2 separate regions of the Homo sapiens genome follow, and region 1 is linked to region 2. Evidence: fine-mapped expression QTL. A gene starts in region 2. The other region holds a variant in brackets. All regions are shown on one strand. Distances are between the middles of the regions.

Region 1 (8,342 bases), 43 kb after region 2:
GGCGCATGCCACCACACCTGGCTAATTTTTGTATTTTTAGTAGAGACAGGGTTTTGCTATGTTGGCCAGGATGGTCTCGAACTCCTGACTTCGTGATCTGCCCACCTCGGCCTCCCGAAGTGCTGGGATTATAGGCGTGAGCCACTGCGTCCGGCCAGCTTAAGTGGCATTTAACTGGGGCATCATCTGTATTTTATTTTAATTAAGTAGGGTCTCATGATACTTTGCAACTTTTGGGGAGAGAGTTTTGGGGATTTTGTTGTTTTGTTTGTTTGTTTGAGGCGGAGTCTCACTCTGTCACCCAGGCTGGAGTGCAGTGGCGCAATCTTGGCTTACTGCAAGCTCCGCCTCCTGGGTGCACGCCATTCTCCTGCCTCAGCCTCCCGAATATCTGGAACTACAGGCGCCTGCCACCAGGCCTGGCTAATTTTTTTTTTTTTTTTTTTGTATTTTTAGTAGAGACGGGGTTTCACCACGTTAGCCAGGATGGTCTCGATCTCTTGACCTCGTGATCCTCCTGCCTCAGTCTCCCAAAGTGCTGGGATTACAGGCGTGAGCCACCATGCCCGGCCTGTTTTTGTATTTTTAGTAGAGATGGGGTTTCACCATGTTAGCCAGGATGGTCTCGATCTCCTGACCTCGTGATCTGCCCACCTCGGCCTCCCAAAGTGCTGGGATTACAGGCGTGAGCCACCATGCCTGGCCTTTTGTTGTTTTATAGAGACAAGGTCTCACCCTGTTCCTGAGTCTTGAGTGCAATGGCACAATCATAGCTCACCGTAACCTTGAACTCCTGGGTTTAAGCATTCCTCCTACCTCAGCCTCTTAAGTAGCGAAGACGACAGGTGCAAGCCACCACACCTGGCTAATTTTTTATTTTTTGTAGAGAAGGTGTCTCACTATGTTGCCTAGGCTGGTCTTGAACTCCTGGCCTCTAGTGATCCCCCTGCCTCTCATCCCCCTTCAGCCTCCCAAAGCACTGGGATTACAGGGATTTTTTTTTTTTTTTTTTTTTGAGAAGTCAAAACATGTTTAGCCCCGAAGATGCCTGGAATTTTCCGTATGAACAGCATAGGCATCATTAATGAAGATGAAAACTTGTTAGAAAAGAGCAAGTTTTTCTGCTTAGCAACTTTGGAATATGACATTTTGTAAGTTCTACATATTCCCTTCAAGGATTAATTAGCCATTATTTAAAGTTTTCTTGCTGTCCACAGTATTCCTTGGTAATGCCAAAAAACTTATATGTCTTTCTTGAGTGGTGACAAAACTTAGACTTGAACCTAAATTCAGAAATCAAGCCTTTTAAGTTTAAGCTCAGTTACAATTATGTTGCATTGTTTTCTTTCATTAGCCATTTTTTGAAAGAGTAGTGTTGGGTAATAACCATAAACGATAGTGCTTTTTTGAATAAGCATACTGGGACTTTAAAGACCTAAATTAAATCTTGTCTTTCTAAGTTATTTTAGGAGGCTATATGCTAATTTCACTTATGAGGTCATTCCAAAATTTCTGGAACCTTCTTTTCATGGAGTTGTCTTCAAAATCAGTATGCCATCCACACAGGAAAATCTTGGTATTTATAGTCGCAGTACTTGCCTTTTTTCAGCTCAGGAGTTTTCTGTCATTTCCTACATGAAGTCCTCACTTCAGCCTATGTAGTGCTTACCATTTCCATTCTCTCTCCTTCCCCGGCCTGTAACCCTCATCTGAGAAACTCCAAACTACACAGATAAAGGAAGAGAGATAGGGGGCAGGAGGCTCCACTGTTGCTGCATGGTATGAGATGCCCCTGAAAGAGCAGCTATGTAGGTCAAGGTGGCAAGAAGTGTGCAATAGTCTGCTCCAGCTTACCGGAAATAAAATATAGCCAGGACATTTAAATTGTAATATATCAGGATGTATCTGGTTTCATAATTTTGTTTGCTCCCATACAAATGAATTCTACCTAGAAATCGAGTGGGATAATTTTCTGCAAATATGCCTTAGCTGTACTTTGGATGGAGTCAGAGGCTGAGGCTATGAGAAGGTGCCTATAATAAGAGGGAGTTAGTGGCTGACAATTTGCTTGGTGGTTGTGTGCAAGATAAGTAAGAGGGGAAAGACCAGTGTATGAAGGAGACTAAGGAAAATCCTAACAGGACAATTTAATATTTGGAAATTGTGAACCTTGACTCTGATCGAACTCCAAACCAATTCACCTCCTCTCATTTCCCCATCATGCCTTTATCTCCTTGTTCTGATTACCCTCCTCATTCATTCTTCTGAGATGGCTTACCCGATTCTCAGAGTTCACCCCGCATCCTTGTTAAAAATCTTTTAAAAATTCTTTTGTCATCATTATAACTTTGTATCTATTTCACCATCTTTCACAGGTTGGAAAGTATTGTTTCTAACTTTAAAAAAGCTATGTGATGGGGCATAATAGTTCATGCCTGTGATAGTGGTACTTAGGGAGGCCGAGGCGGGAGGATCACTTGAGCCCTGGAGTTTGAGACAACCCTGGGCAACATAGTGAGACCCCCATCTCTATAAAGGGGAAAAAAATGAGCCAGCTTTGTGCACACCTCTAGTCCCCCCAGGAGGATAGGGGGCGACTGAGGTGAGAGGATTGCTTGAGCCTGGGAGGTCGAGGCTGCAGTGAGCCATATTTGCGCCACTGCACTCCAGCCTGGGTGACAGAGCAAGATTGTCTGAAAAAAAAAAAAGCTACTTGTTTTCAATTATTGTCAGTTTTCCAGACCCCTATTTTAGCAGTATTTTCTTAAAGCTCAGGGGCAAGGCAAATGCAGGATTCTGTTTTGTTTTGTTGTCCAGAATGGGAATGACAATTATCATCTATAGGGTAGGTGGTAATGAGATGGAAGAGATATTTTGACCTTTTGTTTTGTTGTCCAGACCTGAAACCAGAAACTGTAAGTGTTAAAAAAAAAAAAAAAAATGAAGTGTACCCTATCAAAATGTTAAATGTACAGTACACTATTGTTTACTAGATGCACTTCATTGTAGAGCAGATCTCTAGAACTTTTTCATCTTGTATGACTGAAACTGAGTACCCATTGAACAATTCCCCATTTCTAACCCCTCCAGCTCCTGGCAACCACCATTTTACTTAACTGATTCTGTAAGTTTGACTACTTTAGATAATACATATAAGTGGAATCATGCAGTATTTGTCCTTTCATGACTGGTTTATTTCACTTGGCCTATTTTTTTTTTTTTTTTTTGAGACGGGGTCTCACTGTGTCACCCAGGTTGGAGTGCAGTGGCGCGATCACAGCTCACTGCAGCTTGAACTCCTGGGCTCAAGTAATCCTCCCTCCTCAGCTTCTTGAGTAGCTGGAATCATAGCTGCATGTCACTATGCCTGGCTTAAAAAAGTTTTGTTTTGTTTTGTTTTGTTTTTGGTACAGACTGGGTCTTGTTTTGTTGCCCAGGCTGGTCTCAAACTCCTGGCTTCAAGTGATCCTCCTGCCTCGGCCTCCTGAGGTTCTGGGATTGTAAGTGTGAGCCACCCTGTCCAGCTGACTTACCCTAATTCTTAAGGATCATTCACATTGTAGCTTATGACAGAATTTCCTTCTTTTTTAAGGCTGAATTATTCCATTGTATTTATATCCCACATTGTCTTTATTCAACCATTGATGGACATTTAGGTTGTTTGCAATTCTTGGCTATTGTGAATAATGCTACTATGAACACGGGACAGCAACTATCCCTTTGGGATCCTGTTTTCAATTCTTTTGGATAAATACCCAGAAGTGGGATTGCTGCATCTTATGGTAGCTCTATTTTTAATTATTTGAGAAGCCTTCATATTGTTTTCCATAGCAGCTTGACCATTTTACATTCCCACCTTAGCGTTCAAGGGTTCCAATTTCTCCACATCCTTGCCAACACTCGTTATTTCTTGTTTTCGTAAGTGATATTACTGATTTTATTGAAAAGATTACAGAAAATTTTGAGTTATAAGTAGACAATTTTAATGTAGAGTATAAAGCTTAGGAAATTGTGAGGAATTGAATATGAGGCTTCAGATGGACTATAATTACATGTATGCACTGCCCCGATTTTTTTATACAAATTATAGAAATATCTGCATTGCTTCAAAATT[T/C]ATATAACTATAGGTTTGAAATATGTCATGTACTTTATACAAAATTTTATCTATTATGATAATGGTTGTACAACATCATGACTGTACTTAGTGCCAGTGAATGATACACTTAAAAATGGTTAAAATCTTAAATCTTATTTACATTTTACCACAATTTTTTAAAATGCTCCCAAAATTGTGTCTATTAAAAGTTTCTGGCCAGGTGTGGTGGCTCACCTGAGGTCAAGAATTTGAGACCAGCCTGGCCAACATGGTGAAACCCCGTCTCTACTAAAAATACAAAAATTAGCCGGGCGTGATGGTGGGTGCCTGTAGTCCCAGCTACTCAGGAGGCTGAGGCAGGAGAATTGCTGGAACCTGGAAGATGGAAGTTGCAGTGGGCCGATATCATGCCACTGCATTCCAGCCTGGGGGACAGAGTGAGACTCCATCTCAAAAAAAAAAAAAAAAAAAAAAAGAGTCTCTGGTAAACACCTTGTCTCTTCAAATCCTAAAAACCACCATTTGCATAATTGCTGATTGTAAGTGAAATAATATGATTTATTATCTAGTATGAAGTTCATTTCTATGAACTTCATTTCTGACCATTTCCTGGTGCCAGTCAATAGATGTGGCAGTTGTTACTGAGCATTCTCGAACCTCCTTTTAGATAAAAGAAGTCAGGGACAGTCACGTAGTCTTCTACTGCCTCTGGCTCAGCTGAGAGCATTGTAATATGTTTTCTTCCCCATGCAAACCACAAACGGGGTGTGTGTGTATGTACTTGTGCATATAGATATATTTAATCCTGATTAACAAGATACTGAAGAAAGAAAGCAGCTGTGTTCTGTATTACTTTAAGCATTTAGTACAGGAAAAGAGGCATTTCTGCAGGTAAATAGATTTATAAATATAACTCATCCTGTTTCACTGCCGTAGCTACATATGTAGGAGTAAACCTACAGGAGGTCAAGCAGCATGTAACTAGGGAACTCCTATATTTAGTTGAGAAAAATTAATCATGATACTTCGCAGAGACTTCTGGAAGAAAATTAATTAGCATTATATTCTAAAGGAATTTAGGATGGGGGAATGAATAGGTCTTTGCATCAACATACGTGCTATGATTGAAAGGCAAATAAAAACTAGTTAGGGCTTGGTGACTCTTCTTCCCTAATAAGGGAAATGTTCATGATATTTTAATTGAAAAATATTTAAAAAGTTACAGAGAATATCCCAATTTAAAAAAGTTTTATATACATATGTGTTCCAAAATGTAAATAGTAGTAACTTTTGGGTGATGTGATTATGTATTTTGTACTTTTTCTACATCTTCTCTAATTATATATAATATTTACTTTTTTTTTTTTTTTTTTTTTGAGACAGGGTCTCACTCTATTGCCTAGGCTGGAGAGCAGAGGTGCAAATAGGGCTCACTGCAGCTGGAGAGCAGAGGTGCAAATAGGGCTCACTGCAGCTGGAGAGCAGAGGTGCAAATAGGGCTCACTGCAGGCTGGACCTCCCTGGGCTCAGGTGATCCTCCCACTTCAGTCTGCTGAGTAGCTGGGACTACAGGCACACACCACCATGCCCAGTTAATTTTTGTATTTTTTGGTAGAGAGGGGGTTTCACCATGTTGCCCAGGCTAGTCTCGAACTCCTGGGCTCAAGGGATCTGCCCACCTCAGCCTTCCAAAATGCCAGGATTACAAGTGTGAACCACTGTGCCTGGCCTTAGCACTTTTCTTATCAGAAAATAAAAATTTTATATATATATAGAGAGAGAGAGAGAGAGCAAATGAAATGTTATTCCCTTTGCAGTGGTGGGAGGTGTACTTGAAATGTTTGTTGTTTTCTTTTTCCTTTTTTTTTTTTTTTTTTGAGATAAAGTTTCACTCTTGTCGCCCAGCCTGGAGTGCAATGGCGCCATCTCAACTCACTGCAACCTCTGCCTCCCAGGTTCAAGTGATTCTCCTGCCTCAGCCTCCCGAGTAGCTGGGATTACAGGCATGCGCTACCATGCCTGGCTAATTTTTGTATTTTTAGTAGAGACGGGGTTTCCCCATGTTGGCCAGGCTGGTCTCGAACTCCTGACCTCAGGTGACCCACCCACCTCAGCCTTCCAAAGTGTTGGGATTGCAGGTGTGAGCCGCTGCACCCGGCCGAAATGTTTGTTGTTTACATCAAATTTTATTTTATTTTTCTTTTTTTTGAGATGGAGTTTTACTCTTGTTGCCCAGGCTGGAGTGCAATGCCGTGGTCTTGGCTCACTGCAACCTCCGTCTCCTGGGTTCAAGCAATTCTCCTGCCTCAGTCTCCCGACTAGCTGGGATTACAGGGGCCTGCTACCATGCCCGACTAGTTTTTGTATTTTTAGTAGAGACGAGGTTTCACCATGTTGGCAAGGCTGGTCTTGAACTCCTGACCTCAGGTGATCCGCCTCCTTGGCCTCCCAAAGTGCTGGGATTACAGCCGTGAGCCACCGCGTCCGGCCCAAATTTCCTTTCCATGGATGAATGGTGATGATAACAACCATCCACAGCCTAGGAAAAAAGTCATAATTTAAGTATTCTAGCCTAGAAATACAAGCTGTCAAACTATTGGGCAAGATAAGAGGCTTACAGTTGCTGATGCAATTATTATATAAAAAGAATATGCAGCAGTCAGAGAAAATCTTTAGCCAAGTGAATAGATAATACAACTATACTGCACACACATTCTAGAAGAGAAGAATATGGAGAAGAACCAGAGATCATACTTTCTATATGTAAAATCAAGTAGATCGTAGGCTTAGAGGTTTCATTTATATCAGCAACTAATTTACGTGTGTCTGTATTATTCAATGTAGGATCATTATAGATATGAGGTATTTTAACACTGCAGATGATTTTTCAGTATGGTCTGAGGTGGTATAGTCATACATGCACTTGATCTTGCTTCTTTTCTCATAGCTAAAATAAACTCTAGGGTTGGGCATTAAAAACTATGGTTTTAAGCATTTAAACAGTAAGAAGTTTCTATTCTATTTAGAAATAAATTTTACAAAATAACAATGTAACTGGTATGGTTATTCATTATTAACTAAGAACAAAGCCAATTTTATGTGTGTACCTGAGTAAATTTGTAAAGCAAACTCCTTAGCAAAATATTGTCAAGCTCCCTATATTCAAACTAAGTCAAAATGCTAAAAGTCTCTGTATTTTGGAGACCAACTTAAATACGTTCATTTTCACAACCAGTTCCCAAAAACTTGTCTTAATTAAGGATTGAAAATGATTGCTACTATGTGAACATATCTAATTACTGGGAATTTACTCTGATCAGCTTTGGTTCTTAAGTTGCTATGTCTCTAGATTTAGTAATTTTGCATTAATTCACTGTACTGCAATGAATGGGTTTGTGATGATTCAGGTACAAGATTGAGAGAGTGGATAGCTATTCAGAATTTATGTTTTTTTGTTTGTTTGTTTGTTTTTTTGAGACAGAGTCTCGCTCTGTCGCTCAGGTTGGAGTGCAGTGGTGCAATCTTGGCTCACTGCACCTCCGCCTCCCAGATTCCAGAGATTCTCCTGCCTCAGCCTCCTGAGTAGCTGGGATTACAGGTGCGTGCCACCACGCCTCGCTAATTTTCGTATTTTTAGTAGAGACAGGGTTTCACCATGTTGGCCAGGCTAGTCTCAAACTCCTGACCTTGTGATCCGCCCACTTCAGCCTCCCAAGGTGTTGGGATTACAGGTGTGAGGCACCGTGTCCAGCCTAGAATATATGTTTTAAATCTGCCTTTAAGTAACATATAATATAGTTTTAAAAAACAAGGGTTACAATTATTACAGACTAAACATTCATTATGCTGATGCGTGAATTTCAAGACTGAAAAACCACTAGTAAATTATTTCAAAGCTTTACAAAAGACAGTGAATTTTACTCTGTGACATCTCACAATGCAACTTACTTTTTCTTCTTAGAACCATAATAAATACAAATAACCATACTCAAAGATCTAGCACATCCTTATTCATATGTTTTATAGCGCAATAACCGGGAAGGAAAGTACTGGCTTTTAAGTAATCCTATAAAACAATTTCAGTTGATAAAACACCTGCCTACTTATTGGCAAAACTACCAGTTCTTATGAAGGGTATTTTAATGCTCAGCTGCTCTATTGAGGTGTGAATGCAGCTAAGTTTGCACTTGTTAGTCTATAAGATGGTCCAAGCATCTACAAATTGCCTTGAAAATACGAATGATAT
Region 2 (8,342 bases):
TTTGTGTCTAACAGTATTTTGATGGTTACAGACCTGGAGATGGAAGAACCAAATCAGTGACTTTTGCATACAGGTGGGCCTTAAGGACTCAGACTTCCTAGGATAGCCTTTTGGGGAAAAGGGCATTCTTTTCTCAGTTTTGAGACCCACAGTCTTTAGGCTGAAAGTTTTGGGGAATATATGGTACTATGTTTTTGATATTTATTTTCCCCACAAATTCCATGACTGTTTCTAAATCTCTTCTGCTTCACTCTACCCAGTGTCATTGCCCCTCAAACCCCATTTGAGGAGTGGTCCATGTGTGAAGGGGTTGGGGAGGGGTTTTCCTGGCATTCAGTTTACATCTCAAGTAAGAAAGGTTATGTTGGGGAAGAGGCAGAAAGTTTTTGTAGCCTCAATCCAGAAATGCCTTCTCATATCTCAATGGATTAAAAAGCATTTCCTCAATGATATGGTTTGGTTGTCTCCCAACCCAAATCTCATCTTGAAGTGTAGCTCCCATAATTCCCACATATCATGGAAGAGGTACCTGGTAGGAGGTAATTGAATCGTGGGGGCAGGTCTTTCCCATGCTGTTCTCGTGATAGTGAATAAGTCTCACAAGATCTGATGGTTTTGTTTTGTTTCGTTTTTGTTTTTGAGATGGAATTTCACTCTTGTTGCCCAGGCTGGAGTGCAGTGGCGCGATCTCAGCTCACCACAACCTCCGCCTCCCAGGTTCAAGTGATTCTCCTGCCTCAGCCTCCCGAATAGCTGGGATTACAGGCGTCTGCCACCATGCTTGGCTAATTTTTTGTATTTTTAGTAGAGATAGGGTTTCACCATGTTGGCCAGGCTGGTCTTGAACTCCTGACCTTAGGTGATCCACCAGCCATGGCCTCCCAAAGTGCTGGGATTACGGGCATAAGGCACCACACCCAGCTGACCTGATGGTTTTATAAAGGTGTGTTCCCCTGCACATGTTCTCTCTTGCCTGCCACCATGTAAGAGGTGACTTTGCTCCTCCTTCACCTTCCTCCATGATTGTGAGGCCTCCCCCGCCATGTGGAGCCGTGAGTCAATTAAATCTCTTTCCTTTATAAATTACCCAATCTCAGGTATGTCTTTATTAGCAGCATGAGAACAGACTATTTAATACACTTAAATTCCATTTTTTTTTTTTTTTTTTTTTGAGACAAGAGTCTCAGTCAGCCACCCAGGCTGGAGTGCAGTGGCATGATCTCGGCTCACTGCAACCACCATCTCCCGGTTTCAAGCGATTCTCCCATCTCAGCCTCCCGAGTAGCTAGGATTACAGGCACCTGCCATCATGCCCGGCTAATTTTTGTATTTTAGTAGAGACAGGGTTTCACCATGTTGGCCAGGCTGGTCTTGAACTCCTGACTTCAGGTGATCCGCCCGCCTCGGCCTCCCAAAGTGCTAGGATTACAGGCGAGAGCCACCGTACCTGGCCTCAACTTACATATTTCTAAGAAAAAGAACATTTTCCTACATAACCACAAAATCATTATGACACTCAGGAGACCTATAATTGATTGATAATATTATCTAAAACACAAGTCACTTCAAAATTTTCCCAACTGACGCACCAGAGTAGCTGGGACTACAGGCACGTATCACCACCCCCAGCTAATTTTTGTATTTTTTGTAGAGACGTGTTTTCACCATGTTACCCCAGCTGGTTTCTGAACTGAGCTCAAGGGATCCACCCACTTCGGCCTCCCAGAGTTCTAGGATTACAGGTGTGTGAGCCACTGCACTCAGCCTGTAGTTGTCTTAATTTAATGTTTCTCTTTCTTTCTTTTCTTTTCTTTCTTTCTCTTTCTTTCTTTTTCTTTCCTTTTTTCTCTTTCTTTTTTTCCTTTTTTTTTTTGAGACAGAGTCTCACTTTATCACCCAGGCTGGAGTGCAGTGGCCTGTTGTCGGCTCACTGCAAACTCCGCCTCCCAGGTTCAAGTGATTCTCCTGCCTCAGCCTCCCAAGTAGCTGAGATTACAGGCACCTGCCACCACACTTGGCTAATTTTTTGTATTTTTACTAGAAACGGGGTTTCACTATGTTGGCCAGGCTGGTCTCAACTCCTGACCTCAAGTGATCCGCCTACCTGGGCCTCCCAAAGTGTTGGTATTACAGGCATGAGCCACCATGCCTGGCCAATTTAATGTTTTTCTATTTTTGTTTTAAAATATTTACCTATTCTGAAGTCCAAAGATATTTTCCTATATTATATTCTGAAGACTTTATAGTTTAGGATTTCACATTTAGGTCTTAATCCAGCTACAATTGATTTTTGTGATGAAATGAGAGATAGAGGTCCTGTTTTCTGTTTTGTTTTTTTTTTTGAGACGGAGTCTCCCTCTGTTGCCCAGGCTGAAGTGCAGTGGTGTGATCTCCGCTCACTGCAACCTCCGCCTCCCGGTTCAAGCGATTCTCCTGCTTCAGCCTCCTGAATAGCTGGGACTACAGGTGTGTGCCACCACACCCAGCTAATTTTTGTACTTTTTAGTAGAGACAGGGTTTCACCATGTTGGCCAGGATGGTCTCGATCTCTTAACCTCGTGATCCGCCCACCTCAGCCTCCCAAAGTGCTGGGATTACAGGCGTGAGCCACCGTGCCCGGCCTTCATATTGTCATAGAACCTTCACTGAATAGACCATCTTTTCTCCATGGCTGTATGATGCCACCTTTGTCATAAATCCAGTTTTCAAGTATGCGTGATAAACCGTAAAGAAAAGCAAAGAGTCAAGTATCTGCTTTTGGTAAAATAAATAAATAAATAAATATAAATAAGAAAAGCAAAGTGTTATAAAAGTCGGGCTAGTGGTTTTCTCAGGAAGTGTATCTGTGAAGAACCTGACACTATTCTTTTTTCGCTCTAATGACTTGGCTGTTCATAATTATACTTATCTTTGGTTTATATTTCAGAATAAAATTGTGTTATATTTATCAATAAAAGGTTAGTTAAAAGTAAGCAAACAGAAAAAAAAAAAGAAATATTGATGAGGGGAGCGCCAGCATCTCTCAAAAGTGAGTTCGTGGTTTTGCTCTCAATGGAAAAGCCGGCGGGAGGTGCTAAGGTGGGGATGCTGAATCCACGGATGGCCAAGCGGAGACGCGGCACTTCACCGGGGGCAGCGAGGGGCCCAGACCTTGCTCGGATTGTCCCGGTGGTAACTGGGAGACCTCGCCAGTGAGGGAAGTTACAGATCAGCTGCGCCCGGAATTAAACGACCCACAGACAACGGCGCAAACAGAGGGACTGACCTGCTTTAGTGAGCTCCCAAAACCTGCTCTCGCATAAGCACACCCTCCTCCGCTCACAGAGACGGATTTCTGCCCCAGCCGCAGCCTCGCGAGGTAGGCGGCGCCGCGAGGGCCTCTGGGAAGGCGGTCCGTGGGCAGCCGCGGGGCACTCTGGGACTGGGCTCTGGGCGGCTTTTTTGCGAGTGGCGGGCCGACTGTGTAGTCCGCTCCGGCAGCGCGCTCTGCCCGGCTTCCTCAGTCTCCTCGCCGGGAGCGTCCGGGAGCAGCTCCGAGGCCGCGGCGAAACCAGGTGGAGTCCGAGGTTCGGAGGAGTATCAGAGGTTAGGGGAAGGCCGGAGAATGGGCTGGGAGGCTGCGTTTCGGAGCTTAGGGTTCTGTCCCTGCGATCGCCGCGTCTCCCTCCCTTGGTGGGCGCGGCTCCCGGGAAGCGGCTCGTCTCGTCTCCCCTCACAGGCCGGGTTCCCGTTCTGGACCTTCGCCCTCGGAACACAGTGCTGTTGGCCGGGACTCCTTCCCGAGGTGGACGGCTCCCTGTTCTTATTCCTGGCTCTGCCAGAACTGTAGGAAGTGCTCAGTACACTTTAGGGCATGCATGGCACTCCCTGGGAGACAGTGCTTTAGGGCCAGAGGAAAGATCTTCCCTGAAGGCAAACGCCCGCGGAGCCCACAAGTCCGGGCCGCACTGAACAAGTCAGGATGTTGCCATCGGCAATTCTGCAGAAGGCAGTAACCCATCTGAGAGAAAGAGCCGCTGTCATAAGGTCTCTTGCTTGAGCTGCTGGGTTGAGAATGGAGCTGGAAGAGGGAACTGATCTCGGAGCTCCTTGGGGATCTTGGTTATGTCTGACCCTTTTACTTTCAGGGAGCAGGGATTGGATCAAGTCATTGCATCTAGAGTACGGGGGAACGAAGAAATCATGGAGAGAGTTTGCCCCAGGAGAGAGGCGAGCGTTATGTAACCTAGGATCTGGGGTGGGTAACAGTCTGTGCAGTGTCAATGTGAGAGGAGAAAACACCCAACGTGAGGGAATGGTCAGGTAAGAAAGGACCAGAAGTTCCGGTTCTACCATAGCAAGGACCTAAGTTGCTAATTTAGGTTCTTTAATGCAGACCTGGTCTTTCAGAACTTCTTTCTCTTCCCTAGCCTTGTCATTTCAGCATTCTGGCCTTCCCTATGAGGAGGAAGATCAACGAAGTCACAGGTGAATAGGAGTTTCTCTTCTAAAGTTTCATCTCCTTTGTCAGGGGGAATCGATACACTCTCTCATCTCTTCCTTGGGGAAAAAGAAGGAGATCTATCTTCATCGAGTGCTAATATGCGTACTATATGTTATCACTCAATGGTCGGATATCTCAGTAGGGTTAGTAGGTATTTTAAAAATGTGTCAGTAACTTCAGGAAAACTAGAACCTTGTCCAAGCTTACTCAAAAGGCAAGTAGCATACTACTAAATGCTACCGAACTACTCAGGATTAGGTTTAGAATCCATATCTGTAGGACTCCCAGACTCTTGGCATTATGCTGTTTCCCAGCATCCCATTCACTTACTACCTAACAATTTTGCCATACCTGTGTACTACCTGTATTATTCTATGTTTTTACTTACTTTTTTTTTTTATAAAAATCAAACTTGTCCTAAGAAACAATATCTGTGAAATTAGCCATTTGATGGCTGCTCCAATAACAGTATAGTTATTCTAAGGTGTATCTAAAAATGTTGGTCCATGTGCTATGTAAAATCGTCTCGTGTCAGACATACAAACTACAATTTGGGACACAATGCACTGCATTATGCTCTCTTCTGGATTCTTTTCTGCGTAGGAAAGTCCCAGACACATCTGAGCATCAGTCATCCATCCCTAGTGTACTGTTTTATTCTTATAGATGAATACTTTCACAGAGAATGCCCTGCTTTGTATCTTCTCCAAAAGACATTTCACTTCCCTGTTTAGAACTACCTGTTCTCAATGTTGTATGTAAAACAAGTAGGAACTCCATACATTTCAGGAGCTTCCTCTCTCTTTGGGGAGTTAATGTGTACACAGGAAATAGTCTAACTCTATGCTGTTCAGTAGAGCTTTCTGTGATCAGGGAATGTTCTGTATCTGTGCCTTATCTGTATCCACCAGCCAGATGTAGCTACTGAGCACTTAATATATGGCTAGTGCAACTGAGATGTGAATTTTATTTTATTTTAATTAAATTTAAGTAGCCACATATGGCTAGTGGCTACTAATGGCTACCATATTGGACAGCCAGGTCTAGATATTTGAAATAAAATATTTTAAGGTTATTGATTTGGACTTGGAGTTCCCCCTCACCCTCACAAATACCTCATAGCATATGTGTTATAAATGCCCTTTAGGGCTGGGTGCGGTGGCTCACGCCTGTAATCACAGCACTTTGGGAGGCCGAGGCGGGTGCATCACGAGGTCAGGAGATCGAGACCATCCTGGCTAACACGATGAAACCCCGTCTCTACTAAAAAATACAAAAATTAGCTGGGCGCGGTGGCGGGTGCCTGTAGTCCCAGCTACTCGGGAGGCTGAGGCAGGAGAATGGCGTGAACCCGGGAGGCAGAGCTTGCAGTGAGCTGAGATCCCGCCACTGCACTCCAGCCTGGGTGAAAGAGTGAGACTCTGTCTCAAAAAATAAAATAAAAGAAAAGAAAAAATAAATGCCCTTTAACTTTAGTTTCTTGGTGAAGGGTAAATATTCTTTCCAATTTTCAGAGACTTCATAGTTGAAATAAAGTTTCTTGAAATTATTTAAAGCACATTGACAGTTTATAACACTTGTGTAAATGCACAGCTTCTGTATTTTGTTACTATTGAAATATCCTGTAAAGCAATAATGTTGTAGGATACTCTATAAGCAAAAGTCTTACTATTGTATTATTTTTATTCATTGCAGATAACTTTTCTTCTAGCTATCTATGTTTTCTTTCATTAGTGACATTTAGACTATTTAAAAATCAGTTAAACACAACCACAACTGATATTAATGACGTTTTCAGGGCATCACTTCTTACGCTTTGACATAGGAGTTGGTGCATTCACCTTATTTCACTGCTTATTAGAATAGCAAGAAGGGGACATTTGGTTCATAGCTATCTCTATCAGCTAAAATTCTATGTCAAATTATTTATTTTCCTGGCACTCAAAGTCAAACACTAATGGACTGGTTGTATCTTGTTTTGCTTACTCTCTATGCAGGTTAGATATGTGGGGTTAGAAGGAAGGCTTAAAAAGAGTATCTTCATAAGATAATTTGCCTAGTTTCTTTTTTCTTTTTTCTTTTTTTTTTTTGAGACGGAGTCTCGCTCTGTTGCCCAGGCTGGAGCACAGTGGTGGGATCTCAGCTCACTGCACGCTCCGCCTCCTGGGTTCACGCCATTCTCCTGCCTCAGCCTCCCAAGTAGCTCGGACTACAGGCACCCACCACCAAGCCCGGCTAATTTTTTGTACTTTTAGTAGAGACAGGTTTCACCGTGTTAGTCAGGATGGTCTCGATCTCCTGACCTCATGATCCGCCCGCCTTGGCCTCCCAAAGTGCTGGGATTACAGGCGTGAACCACTGCGCTTGGCCGCCCAGTTTCTTAAGATTAAAAAATACTTGAAAGACAAAACAATCAAACATAATGTGTGGTCTTTGTTTCCTGGATTAAAGAAAAGCTATCTAGGACATTTTGAGGACAGTTGGGGAAATTTATATATGAACTGGAATGTTAAGGAATTACTAATTTTGTCAGATGTGATAATGTAGTTATGAGGAGAATGTCATTTGGAAGACAGTATTGTGGTTATGAAGAAGAATGCCATTTGGAAATTATGCTGAAACATTTAGATTTTAAAGTTTTATGCTATCTGTAATTTACTTTAAAATAGTTCAGCCAAAACAAAAAAGTACACACACAAGAAGTAAATACAGCAAAATGTCAACAGTTGTTCATCTACATGGTGTGGACATGGGTGTTTGTTGTTTTATTCTTTCTACTTCTCTGTATGTTTGAAAATTTTCTTTTTCTTTTGAGATGGAGTCTTCACTCTGTCACCCAGGCTGGAGTGCAGTGGTGTTATCTCAGCTCACTGCAACCTCCACTTCCTAGGTTCAAGCGATTTTCCTGCCTCAGCCTCCCGAGTAGCTAGGATTACAGGTGCCCGCCACCACACCCGGCTAATTTTTTGTATTTTTAGTTTCACCATGAGGTGTATTTTTAGTTTCACCATGCTGGCCAGGCTGGTCTCAAACTCCCGACCCCAGGTGATCCACCTGCCTCGGCCTCCCAAAGTGCCGAGATTACAGGCTTTAGCCACTGTACCCGGCCTTGAAAATCTTTATAGTAAAAAGTTGAAAGAAAAAAGGAGTACAGTACCCATCCCCATCCCACAGTAGGGTAGTGAGATATTGGATGTAAAACACGTGGCTCAGTGTCTGGCACACAAAAAATAACCGCACAATAAATATTCTCTATTATAGCAGTAAATTTTGAGTTTTTAATAATGCTGTAATAGGCAGATTTTTTTCCCATTATAAGCTAGTTTCTTGTGGAGGGAGAAAATAAACTTAATGGGAAACTCCAGTTTAGTGACAGACACCAATTTCTATAATATTAAGAGGATAATTTATGAAGTCAAGCTACTAATTTCCATGTGTCGCTGTAACATCCTCTTATTATTTCATGCATTAATTTGTGTTAGACTATATTTATTTGTATCTATATATAGTTGATCTTTGAATTTTGCCATACTAGGTTCCTTGAACTGCATTTAAAAACAGTTATTGCAGAGCTCCTTTTTCTCAAGGAACAGTTTGTAGTTGAGATTCATTTTGCTCGTCAAGGACTTTGTATAAAGGAAATTGTAGAAAGTGGCCCATGGTAAACTTCTCAAACATTGTTCCTACATTTACAAAGATGTATATTCACTTAAAATAATGAAATACTCTTTCAAGTCAATAGAATTTTGAAGCAGAAAAGGCAAACCTCAAATCTCCTTTTTTTTTTTTTTTCTTTTTCTTGAGACAGAGTCTTGCTCTGTCACCCAGGCTGGAGTGCAGTGGTGCAGTCTCGGCTCAC

Alleles and levels. Positions count from the first base shown, and alleles are read on the strand shown. Sizes are in standard deviations (SD) of each study's normalised expression.
As copies of T replace C in region 1, the expression in stomach of the gene that starts at base 3,444 in region 2 goes down (moderate effect, 0.41 SD a copy in GTEx).

What was found.
Region 1: its variant is fine-mapped to the expression of EXO5 in stomach (GTEx, PIP 0.92).

The regions. Positions count from the first base shown.
Region 1 is chr1:40,548,381-40,556,722 of GRCh38, forward strand. No RefSeq gene overlaps it. Among named protein-coding and RNA genes, the nearest start is that of ZNF684, 21 kb to the left of the region's middle. The variant T/C (reference allele first, on the strand shown) is at 4,115.
Region 2 is chr1:40,505,324-40,513,665 of GRCh38, forward strand. It overlaps EXO5 (exonuclease 5), which reads left to right and starts at 3,444. Exons shown (of 4, transcript NM_001346953.2): 1 at 3,444-3,585; 2 at 4,128-4,302; 3 at 4,410-4,467. It overlaps EXO5-DT (EXO5 divergent transcript), which reads right to left and starts at 3,372. Exons shown (of 2, transcript NR_187365.1): 1 at 3,266-3,372. RefSeq lists enhancers at 3,481-3,730, 3,761-3,850.